2 linked regions of the Homo sapiens genome follow. The protein of the gene in region 2 purifies or fractionates together with the protein of the main gene of each other region. This does not show direct contact. Each region holds a gene or a part of one and is shown on either strand. Other genes may lie near its edges. The genes, in order: NKAP and NINL.

What was found.
Region 1: the proteins of NINL (region 2) and NKAP purify together in Homo sapiens (affinity purification with mass spectrometry; 2 studies listed by BioGRID and IntAct, with this or other methods). This does not show direct contact.

The regions. Positions count from the first base shown.
Region 1 is NC_000023.11:119,940,518-119,948,201, reverse strand, and holds the start of NKAP (NF-kappa-B-activating protein), read left to right. Parts: upstream 1-4,450; 5' UTR 4,451-4,596; coding exon 4,597-4,982; intron 4,983-7,684. UniProt on the Homo sapiens protein: Acts as a transcriptional repressor. Plays a role as a transcriptional corepressor of the Notch-mediated signaling required for T-cell development. Also involved in the TNF and IL-1 induced NF-kappa-B activation.
Region 2 is NC_000020.11:25,451,964-25,456,586, reverse strand, and holds the end of NINL (ninein-like protein), read left to right. Parts: intron 1-800; coding exon 801-914; intron 915-2,944; coding exon 2,945-3,136; 3' UTR 3,137-3,890; downstream 3,891-4,623. UniProt on the Homo sapiens protein: Involved in the microtubule organization in interphase cells. Overexpression induces the fragmentation of the Golgi, and causes lysosomes to disperse toward the cell periphery; it also interferes with mitotic spindle assembly.

The sequences.
Region 1 (7,684 bases), on a different chromosome or scaffold from region 2:
CGCAGTCTCTAAAACAATTGTTGGCATAATTGGAAAGCATCCTCAAATTCAAATGGACACAAACTACAAGAGTCCCCCTAACACCCACTCCTTAAATTCCATTTCCACAACCCAGATCCCTGCCTCAGTCCGCTGGGTGTTAGCCATGCACCTGCCCAGACAGCTGCAGAGTCTCAGACTTTGAAGAGGAGTAGTGAATGGAAGCTGAATACCTCCATATCCCATAACACACAAATGGTTTAATTCCTGTAGAGAATGGATCAGGTCAGGTGAGGTGGCTCACGCCTGTGATCCCAGCACTTTGGGAGGCCGAGGTGGGCGGATCACTTGAGCTCAGGGGTTCCAGACCCACCTGGGCAACATGGCGAAACCTTGTCTCTACCAAAAATGTCAAAACTTAGCCAGGCATGGTGGTATGCGCCTGTTGTCCCCGCTACTCGGGAGGCTGAGGTGGGAAGATCGCTTGAACCCAGGAGGCGGAGGTTGCAGTGAGCCAAGATAGTGCCACTGCACTTTAGCCTGGGTGACAGAGTGAGACCCCCATCTCAAAAAAAAAAAATTTAAAGAAGAATAGGCCAGGCGCGGTGGCTCATGCCTGTAATCCCAGCACTTTGGGAGGGTGAGGCAGGCGGATCATGAGGTCAGGAGTTCAAGACCAGCCTGGCCAACACAGTGAAATCCTGTCTCTACTAAAAATACAAAAATTAGCTGGGCATGGTGGCGCATGCCTGAAGTCCCAGCTACTTGGGAGGCTGAGGCAGGAGAATCACTTGAACCTGGGAGGCAGAGGTTGCCCAGGCTGGAGTGCAGTGGCAGGACCCAAACTCTGCAAGCCTGATCCCACTGGCTGTCTGCACCTCCCTGTGTGCTCTAGCTCCCCCTCACTGCCAACTCATGAAACACAGGCTGCTCCCAGGATACCTGGCAAGAAGAGCACCATGCCATTCAGATGTGCAGGAGTAGGGGTTTTCTCTTTCCAACTAAAGTACATGTCCACCAGCCATGGGGCAGGTAGACCAATCACTGTTGCAGAGTTGGTTTTATAGGCAACTGATGTGAAGGTGTACTGCCTGTTGTCGCAAAAGTTAGGCAGTAGGTTTTCCATTGAAAACTTTCTTATTAGAAATTCTCCCCAATCTCCATCCCAAATCACAGAATTTCTCTTACTCGATTAAGTTTTTGGACCTGGCCCCATGACAAATTAGTTATACATAGAAGATATCCAATAGTGTGGTCCACTCTTTCCATTTAACATTATTTCATACGTCTTTCCCTTAAATTCCAAAAAAAGGAGATTTCTGATAATCAATTGGCATTAATTTTCATGATCTGATAAATTACTTCTTAGGAAAATCCCAGAGGCCATCATGCTACTGGCAGGCTGGACTTGGAATTTCTTCAGCAAACCTATGTACCTTCAAAAATCCAAATTGAGGGCTGTGCATGGAGGCTCACGCCTGTGATCCCAGTACTTTAGGAAGCGGAGGCCGGCAGATCATTGGAGGTCAGGAGTTTGAGACCAGCCTGGCTTACAGGGTAAAACCCAGTCTCTACCAAAAATACAAAAATTACCTGGGCATGGTGGTGGGCACCTGTAATCCCAGCTACTTGGGAGGCTGAGGCATGAGGACTGCTTGAACCCAGGAGGCAGAGGTTGCAGTGAGCCAAGATCCTGCCACTGCACTCCAGCCTGGGCAACAGAGCAAGACTCTGTCTCAAAAAAAAAAGTCGAAATCAGTAGAATTAATGTTGGAATGCCCTTTGATTTAAAAACAGTAGAGGCCTAGGTGCAGTGGTTCAAGCCTGTAATGACAGCACATTGAGATGCCGAGGTGTGAGGATCACTTGAGTCCATGAGTTCAAGACCAGCTTGGGCAACATGGCAAAACCCCATGTCTACAAAAAATTTAAAAATTAGCGAACCATGGCACATGCCAGCTACTCAGGAGGCTGAGGTGGGAGGATCCCTTGAACTCAGGAGGTGGAGGTTGCAGTGAGCCAAGATCACACCACTGCACTCCAGTCTGGGTGAGGGAGCCAGACACTGTTTCACAAAAGAAAAAAGAAAAGAAAAACAGTATAAAATGAATAGAAATGCTGGGCGTGGTGGCTCACGCCTGTAATCCCAGCACTTTGAGAGGCTGAGGCGGGCGGATCACAAGGTCAAGAGATCAAGACCATCCTGGCCAACATGGTGAAACTCTGTCTCTACTAAAACTACAAAAATTAGCTGGGCATGGTGGCACGCCCCTGTAATCCCAGCTACTCAGGAGGCTGAGGCAGGAAAATAGCTTGAACCCTAGAGGCAGAGATTGCAGTGAGCCAAGATCACGCCACTGCACTCCAGCCTGCTTACAGAGCGAGACTCCATGTAAAAAAAAAAAAAAAAAAAAAAAAAGAATAGGAATACTGATCCTTAACTCTATATTGCTGGGCTGGCATACAATGAGACTAGTTTAAGGAGCTGGACAAAGAGGGGATTACAAATTCCTTTTGCTGGATAGATAATAGAGGCTGGGTAGGGTATGTGGGAGGAAGCAGAAGGATGAAGAGAAATAGGTTAAAGGGTACAAACATACAGTAAGATAGAAGAAATAAATTCAATGGTTTTTGTTGTTGTTTTAAGACAGTGTCTCACTCTGTCGCCCATGGAGTGCAGTGGATCAATCACGGCTCACTGCAACTTCGATTTCCGGGCTCAAGTAAGTGTTCCTCCCACCTCAGTCTCCTGAGTAGCTGGCATGCACCACCACACTCGCCAAATTTTTAAATTTTTTGTAGAGACAGGGTCTCCCTATGTTTCCCAGGCTGGTCTCCAACTCCTGGGCTCAAGTGATTGGCCCGCCTCGGCCTCCCAAATTTCTGGAGTTACAGGTGTAAGTCACCATGCCCAGCCCCAAATTCAATGTTTGATATTGACAGCATGGTAGAGTGAGAGTACACTATTTTTTTTTGGAAACACAGTCTCACTCTGTTGCCCAGGCTGGAGTGCAGTGGTGCAATCTCACTCTCGGCTCACTGCAACCTCAGCCTCCCGGGTTCAAGCGATTCTCGTGCCTCAGCCACCCTAGTAGCTGAGATTACAGGCACGTGCCACCAGGCCCAGCTAATTTTTGTATTTTTAGTGGAGACAGGGTTTCGCCATGTTGGCCAGGCTGGTCTCAAACTCCTGACCTCAAGTGATCCACCCGCCTCTGCCTCCCAAAGTGCTGGGATTACAGACGTGAGCCACCATACCAGGCCGAGAGTACACTTAACAAAAATGTATTGTGCTCAGATAATGGACACCTTAAATACCCTGACGTCATCACTACACATTATATACATGTAACAAAATTTCACATGTATCCCATAGATTTGTACAAATTTAAAAAATAATAAAAAATTAGCTGTGCATGATGGCACATGTCTGTAATCCCAGCTACTCAGGAGGCTGAGGCAGGAGAATCACTTGAACCTGGGAGGCGGAGGTTGCAGTGAGCCAGGATAGCCACTGCACTCCAGCCTGGATGACAGAGGGAGCCCTTGTCTCAAAAATAAAAAAATAAAAAATAAAATGACACTTTTTGGGGAAAAAAATACAAGCCAGACGCAGTGGCTCACACCTATAATCCTAGCACTTTGGGAGGCCGAGGCTGGCGGATCGCTTGAGCCCAGGAGTTCAAGACCACCTGGGCAACAAGGTGAAACCCTGTTTCCCCCGACCCCCCTCAAAAAAAAAACTACCCAGGCTTGGTGTCGCATGCGCCTGTAATCCCAGCTATTCAGGAGGCTGAGGTGGGAGGATAGCTTGAGCCCGGGGAGGCGGAGGTTTGCAGGGAGCTGAGATCTTGCCACTGTACTCCATCCTGGGCGACAGAGTGAGCAGAGTGAGTTCCAGTCTCAAAAAAAAAAAACCTCCTTTTGCTGGGGCATATTGGTGGAGACGGTGGCTAGGGGATAAGTATGCAGTTTTTCTCTAGGCGGGAAACTTAATTGAAGTTTATCAGGCGCGAGTCATTAACAAAATTTGCGCCCTCTAAGCTAACACGGCAATATGGGGCTTAGACACCATAGCTAATCCCCAGTCGCGAAAAACCCTCCCGATTTGCTTGGGATTGGAAAGAAAAAGAAAATACACATTCATACTTTCATACATGACATACACACACACACACACATTTATATATAAATACACACAGAAAGCACAGGAAACACAAGCAGAATTAACTGTCTTGTTCATACGGCCACTCAGTGAAATGTATACTGTATATTGTGTTTGAAATATATACTTCCCTTCAAGTGTTTCAAGTTCAAGGCTGAGAAAGAACTTGGTCTCTTGCTTAGACTTGAGGAGCCTCACTCGGAACTGGAAGGATGCACGCAATCTAGTTGCCCCACCGGCTTATTTATATTGATGCACACATCGCTTCCTGTCGGTGACGACCGCCTAGATCCGGGGAAGGGTTTTGCAGAAGTACCCAGAACTGTGTCCAAGGTTTCCTCAGATTTGGGCTGTTCCGCAGCGGCAGGTCCCGGGAACCAAGGCAACAGACATCTTCCTAGGCTCGCGAGAGCGCCCCCTTGTCCCACGGCTGCTGGGGCCCCCCAGTAGCCATGGCTCCGGTGTCCGGCTCACGCAGCCCGGATAGGGAGGCCTCGGGCTCGGGGGGAAGACGTCGCAGTTCGTCGAAGAGTCCGAAGCCCAGCAAATCTGCCCGCTCCCCGCGGGGCCGCCGCTCTCGCTCGCACTCTTGCTCTCGGTCCGGGGACCGGAATGGACTCACCCATCAGCTGGGTGGCCTCAGCCAAGGCTCCCGAAACCAGTCCTACCGCTCACGCTCGCGGTCGCGTTCTAGAGAGCGGCCCTCTGCGCCCCGGGGCATCCCCTTCGCTTCTGCCTCCTCGTCAGTCTATTACGGCAGCTACTCGCGCCCCTACGGGAGCGACAAGCCTTGGCCTAGCCTCCTCGACAAGGAGAGGGAGGAGAGCCTGCGGCAGAAGTGAGTGAGACGGCCGCACTTTCTCTTGTACGAGCCTACGTGCCTTTGGAGTCCGATCTATCATTCATTCCGCTTCTGACTATTCGCATTTCGCTCACTCTGCTTGCCTTGCGCCCATTTTCATCCCTTTCTTTAATCCACCCACGACAACCCTTTATTCGTCCTTTTCATTTTCCCTTACCCTCAGGCCCCTTCATATAGTGCCCTGGTCTCCCGCTACCCCCTTCCGCCTCCTGTCTTGTTAGCGAATATTGCCGAGAGTTCAGACCTACCAGAACTGTAGCATTTACCTGGTTGTGTCATTATCATTCGTGAATATATTTGTATTCCCCACTAGACTGAGCTCATGGAAAGGAGGAGCCAGTGAACGGAGGAGAATTCTGATCACAGAATTCTAAGTGCCTGGTACTTTATAGGCGCTCAACCATTGCTTGTTGAATGAAGGAACTTACAGGTCTGAGATAACAGGATATTTATGTAGAAACGTTTTGTGGGGAATTAGGAAGGAATGAAATCAAGGGTTTAAGTTGGAGAGGAAATAAACCTTCCCCTCAGACAAGACGATTAGATGCATGTAGGAAAAGTGATCTGATAAGCTATAGATGACCCCACTTTGAGGAAGGTCTTGTTAAGTGGTCTCAGTCTTGACCTCGAAAAATGACGCCAGGATGAGACTAGATCTCTAATCAAAGTGAGTATTGGAGTGGAAAAATGCATAGCTTGGGGATTGTTTTGTTTTGTTTTTGAGACAGGGTCTAGCTCTGTCGCCCAGGTTGGAGTGCAGTGGTGCAATCTTGGCTCACTGCAGCCTCCACCTTCTTGGGCTCAAGTGATCCTCCCACCTCAGCCTCCCTCATAGCTGGGACTATAGGTGCGCACCACCACACCCGGCTTATTTTCGTATTTTTTGGTAGAGACAGGGTTTCACCATGTTGCCCAGGCTGGTATCGAATTTCTGGGCTCAAGTGATCCTCCCACGTTGGCCTCCGGAAGTGCTGAGATTACAGGTATGACCCCACATGCCCTGCCGAGCCTGTCCTTTTCATCACTATACTTTATTACCTCCCACTGCCGGAAGAAAAAGACTCAAGACATCTCCCAACTGTTGGAACTTTAACCTACCTCTCAATGCCTGTAATATTTCTAAGTTTCTCATTTTTTTAAACATATAAGTGCACGTAAATAACTTAGTACAGTGCCTGACACATAATTTAACAATAAACAAGATATTAAGACTTACACAGCAATAATTATGAGCCTTTTCCTTTCTCCTTAAAACTATGCATTTTTTGGCTGGGCACAGAGGCTCATGCCTGTAATCCCAACACTTTAGGAGGCCAAGGCAGGAGGATCACTTGAATCCAGGAGTTCAAGACCAGCCTAGGCAATATAGGGATACCCTGTCTCTACAAAAAGTGTTTTAAAAATCAGCTGGGCGTGGTGGCATGTGCTTGTAATTTCAGGTACTGGGGATGCTGAAGTGGGAGGATCACTTGAGCTGGAGAGGTCAAGGCTGCCATGAGCCATGATCTCACCACTGCACTCCAGCTTGGGTGACAGAGGGAGATGCTGTCTCAAAAACAAACAAACAAAAAAAAACAAAGAGAAGAACAGGAAGAAAGAAAGGAAAAGGACAAACTCCAGAATCAGACTGAGTATGAAGCCTTTATTTGCCACTTAATAGCTGTGTGACCTTGGTCAAGTTACTTAACCTCTCTGGGCTCCATTTCTTCATCATTAAAAGGGGGATAAAATAAGTACTATGGATTAAAAAGGGGATAAAATAAGTACTAGGGATTTGGGGATTGTAATAATTAAGTGGCTGGAACATAACTATTCCATAAGTGTTAGCTATTAATGTTTCATGCATGGGAGCAAAAACAGTAAAAACAGTCCTGAGTTAGGTTGGAGACCCATCTCTCCAAGTTACATTTTTCAGAAACATACCCACAGGCTATGTCAGTCAAAAAGTAAATAGTTTCTTCTTGGAGAATCCTCACCAAAAGATGTCAGAAGTGCTTGGATGAAACTTGCATATGTACATTTAGAAAATAAATAATTTATCTTTTTTTTTTTTTTTGAGATGGAGTCTCACTCTGTCTCCCAGGCTGGAATGCAGTGGTGCAGTCTCGGCTCACTGCAGCCTCCACCTCCTGGGTTCAAGTGGTTCTTCTGCCTCAATCTCCTGAATAGCTGGGATTACAGGTATGCACCACCACACCCAGCTAATTTTTGTGTTTTTAGTAGAGACGGGGTTTCGCCATGTTGGCCAGGCTGGTCTCGAACTCCTGACCTCAGGTGATCCACCAGCCTCAGCCTCCCAAAGTGCTGGGCCCGGCCAATAATTTATCTTAACATTACAGATGAAACCAGGTGACAACAGGACTTCCTGCTATTTACAGCCTGGTAGGCGTTCTTCCCCCGATATCCATACATTCCAAGTACAGCTATAAATATGTTACCTTTTAAATTGTCTGTTACTTCAGGTGGGAAACCCTCTCAGTCTGACTCTGCATAGTTATAATACCTTTTCCCCTGATTAAGGAGGCAAAAACGATTTATACAAAAACTCATTGCAATTATATTTATTTTGGAAGGATTTTTAAAAACAAATGGAGTCACAAGCAGCTAAAATTTGAGAGAATGAGCCTTAGTCTTTGTTTTGTTTTGTTTTTTAGTTTATGAGGAATAACAAAAATTAA
Region 2 (4,623 bases):
CTGTAACCTTTTTGTTTTTGTTTTTTGTGTTTTTTTTTTGAGACGGAGTCTTGCTCTGTCACCCAGACTGGAGTGCAATGGCACAATCTTGGCTCACTGCAACCTCCGCCTCCTGGGTTCAAGCAATTATTCTGCCTCGGCCTCCCGAGTAGCTGGGACTACAGGCGCCCGCTACCATGCCCGGCTGATTTTTTGTATTTTAGTAGAGATAGGGTTTCACTGTGCTGCCCAGGCTGGTCTCGAACTCCTGAGCTCAGGTAATCCGCCCGCCTCAGACTCCCAAAGTGCTAGGATTACAGTTGTGAACCACTGCACCTGGCTTTTTTTTTTTTTTTTTTTTTTTTTGAGATGGAGTCTCACTCTGTCACCAGGCTGGAATGCAGTGGTGCTATTTCGGCTCACAGCAACCTCTGCCTCTTGGGTTCAAGTGATTCTCCTGCCTCAGCCTCCCAAGTAGCTGGGACTACAGGTGCACGCTACCACGCCCAGCTAATTTTTCTTTTTTTTTTGAGACTGAGTCTTGCTCTGTCACCTAGGCTGGAGTGCCACTGCAACCTCCACCTCCTGGGTTCAAGTGATTCTCCTGCCTCAGCCTCCCAAGTAGCTGGGATTACAGGTACGCACCACCACACACGGCTAATTTTTCTATTTTTTTTAGTAGAGATGGGGTTTCACCATGTTGGCCAGGTTGGTCTCAAACTCCTGACCTCAGGTGATCCGCCCGCCTCGGCCTCCCAAAGTGCTGGGATTAGAGGCGTGAGCCACCATGCCCGGCCACCTGCAACCTTCTTTTATGGCAGGAAGAACATGAGAAACAGCTGAAAGCCACAGAAGAGCGGGTGGAAGAGGCGGAGATGATTCTGAAGAATATGGAAATGCTCCTCCAAGAGAAAGTGGATAAGCTGAAGGAGCAGGTGAGTGATGGGCGCTGCTGCTTTCGTGTTCACGTCCTCTTCTGAACGCTCTCCACTTTTATGGGTGTGCAGGTAGCTAATACAGGAAAAGGCTGTCTTGTCACAGAATTCCAGGGAACTAAATGTATACCCTACACTGCAGGTGCACATTCATTTATTTTCCTCCGGGAATGGTTTTAAGATCTGTCCTTTGGGTGTTCACATACACTCAGAAAGGACTCATCCGTTCATTTGTTCATGTAGTCATTCAGGCATCCCCAAGCACCTCTGGTCTAAGCTTTCCCAGGTAGACCTGAGATGAGCAGGGCTGAGCCTGCATCCCAGACCTGACCCTCTGGAGACAGAGGCAGATGCTTCCATAGAGCATACATGACCTCGGGCCATGATGAGTGCTCTGAAAATGAGAGAATAGAGGTGGAAGGAGCCGGTGGGGTGGTCAAGGCCACTTTGAAGAGCCAGCATTTGGTCAGATGCCCAGTGACCAGCACAGGAACGTCCAGCTGTGTCCCCAGCAGAGGCCAGGTGGCATTTGGAAGGCTCAGTGGGTGGGAGATGCACACATCTCCTCGTGTCTGGGGGACTCCGAGGAGGGTGCATTCCAGGCAGCGGACAGCCATGGAGGAGGCCGCCATGGCTGGTGTGAACTGGTAGGGCTCAGGTAGGCAGTGCCTGTCGTGTGTATCCTAGAAGCCAAGGTCAGGGGTTTGGGTTTTATCATAATGGCAGTTAGAAGGCATAGGGAGATTTTAAGTAAAAGCATGACAGGATCTATCTTTTAAAAGAAACCATACTAGGGAAAAAGTCACTTGGGCTACTGTAAGGAGCAAAGACCAAAAATGAGGTGCCATAACTCACCTGGTCTGTAGATGTTCGAAGTCCAACTCAGCAGGTGGGAACTGACGTGCAGCAGTGCTGTGCCCTGAGGGCTGATGGCACAGGGTGTGGGTGGACCCCACGGGTGTGGGGTGCACACACAGAAGAGGCCCGGCCACGGACCACATTCAGTGTTAGGATTAAGAGAAATATGAAAACCTGGAGAAGTATTTTTGCTCCATCGTGATCCAGTATGGTTTGGTCTACATGAGGGATCCTGAGCTCAGCCCAAGCTAGACAAGGCATTTGTGGAAGGTTCCCAGTCCCTCCCTGGGGCCACCCGTCCTTGCCCAGCTTCCTCCCCTACTGGTGCCCCCGGTCCCTCTCACCCTTTCTCCCTGGCACACACCCACAGTCCTCAGTTGCCCGTCTCGCCAGCAACACCTGACTTCTGGTTCAATCCTGTGGCTCCTGCATACCTGCCCTGGCCCTGAGCACAGGCCACAGCCCAGGGCCTCAGTACTGCCTGTCCTGCGCCTGCTCCCTCCCCTGCTTCTCTTGGCTCCTGGCCTTGCTGACATCACAGCCAGTAGCGCATACGCAGATGAACCTGTTCCACACTCTGACCGTCCCAGGGCCTTTTGAGGACTGGCCACTTTTGCCTGAAGTCCTTGTTTCACGGCACAAAGCTGCCTCAAGTTTTCTCCATCACATAGCCCAGCAGATTCTCAATTTCCTCTCATGCCAGGGTAACAAAACTTGTCATTATAATCCAGTATTTGTGTCAGATTTCTTTTTTTTTTGGAGACAGAGTCTTGCTCTGTCGCCTAGGCTGGATGGAGTGCAGTGGTGCGATCTCTGCTCACTGCAAGCTCCACCTCCCGGGTTCACACCATTCTCCTGCCTCAGCCTCCCGGGTAGCTGGGACTACAGGCGCCCGCCACCACGCCCAGCTAATTTTTTTGTATTTTTTAGTAGAGATGGGGTTTCACCGTGTTCGCCAGGATGGTCTCGATCTCCTGACCTTGGGATCTGCCCACCTCAGCCTCCCAAAGTGCTGGGATTACAGGCGTGAACCACTGCCCCCGGCCTTGGGTCAGATTTCTAAGAGCCCAAAACTGTGGTTTGCGTAAACCTGGGAGGATAAAAGAGAGCAGGCTGATCTGTAGCGTTTCTCCACCGGCCTCATGCAAAGCATGGCTTCCTCCCCTCTCTAGTTTGAAAAGAACACGAAGTCCGACCTGCTGCTGAAGGAGCTGTACGTGGAGAACGCCCACCTGGTGAGAGCACTTCAGGCCACCGAGGAGAAGCAGCGAGGCGCCGAGAAACAAAGCCGCCTCTTGGAAGAAAAAGTTCGCGCTCTCAACAAACTCGTCAGTAGGATTGCCCCCGCAGCCCTCTCTGTGTAAAGACAGATTATTTTCTAGGATTCATTCGAAAGCACATCTTTTAAATTAAGCCACTGTGCTGCCTTAGATTCCGTGGGTCATGAGCCATGAGTCCTGGGACATCTGAGGATTGGGATTCTTTGTTCACCCCGCAGATAGTTAATGAATGGTCTGCCCTGGGCAAGATGGAGGTGGGGGCTGGGGGAATATGCATGTTGCAGAAGCCGGCGTTTTTATTAGCGGTCCTGAGTAATTTCCCTTGGCAAAATTCCCAGTTTTGCCACTCTCTGGAGCCAGATCCTGGGAGCTGTCAGCAAGGAGCAGGTAAGTGAGCAGTTATGGACAGCACTTTCCATGTGGTGCTTCCGACCCTGGCTGTCAGAGTGAAATGTAAAGTCAGGGCTCTGTACAGTTTTGCCATTTCACTGTTCTGCTTTAAGCTTAGCTTATTAGAACTCTTGGTGGAGGGTGCGTACACACATTCCAGAAAAGGCTTCACTCGCTGGGAACGTCAACCCAGCGAGAAAGGAGGGGAAGCCCCTTCTCCGGGGACCTTATCTGTGGACTCAGGAATGATGGTGTTTATTGCAAATGCACAATCTTTTTCCCATTGAAATGTCATCACACTGGAAATTGTACTATATGTAAAAAAAAAAAAAAGTATAGTTTTATATTTGAAATGTATGCAAATTATGGCCATATGGCTGATTGGAATGTACTACTGTAATATAAAAAGTCACTGTATTTGCAATAAATTCTTTTCTATTAAAATTGACTTCTAAGTTTGTTTTTAATTTTTTAAACTATAAAATATTTCAAACATAGAGGAAAATAGTTATGTAAGAAACACCCATGTGCCCATCAACATATCTAGTAAGAATAATATCCTGCCACAGCACTGTGGAGGGCGGGAGCCTGTTCTGTTCTCAGCCTCCTCCCTCTTCCCGGGGCAGCCGCCATCCCAAAGCTGGCATGTCTTCTCCTTTCTGCAGGAGAAAAATGTCACAGCACCGTGGAAAGATAACAAAGCCTGGAACAGATGGAAAGGTCGGTTCTTTGGAAGATTCGGCAACATGAAGTTGACTGGTTCTTCAAAGTTTACTGATGATAAATGTAATTAATCCCAATATAAATACAGATGTTACATGCCCCAATCAACCCCAGAATTGGACAAGACATTCTAAAGTTTTTACATACAACTAAATAAGCAAACAAAACAATTAGGAAAACTCTGAAGAAAGAAGAGCAATGTATGGGGACTAGTTCTACCAGTTATTAATATGTAAGTCCTAATACAGTTTATGTTACATGGGTGTATGCATTTGTCAAAACTCATTGAGGAGTACACTTCTTCATTCACTTTGGGCTTCTGTCTGAGACTGGAGTAACGAGATTGGAGTAACCAGGAGACCTGAACAACATTATCAATCTACTGACATCTAGAACCCACCACACGACACCAGTAGAAGCAAATGCAGCCAAACACTTACCAAGACAGACCATATCTT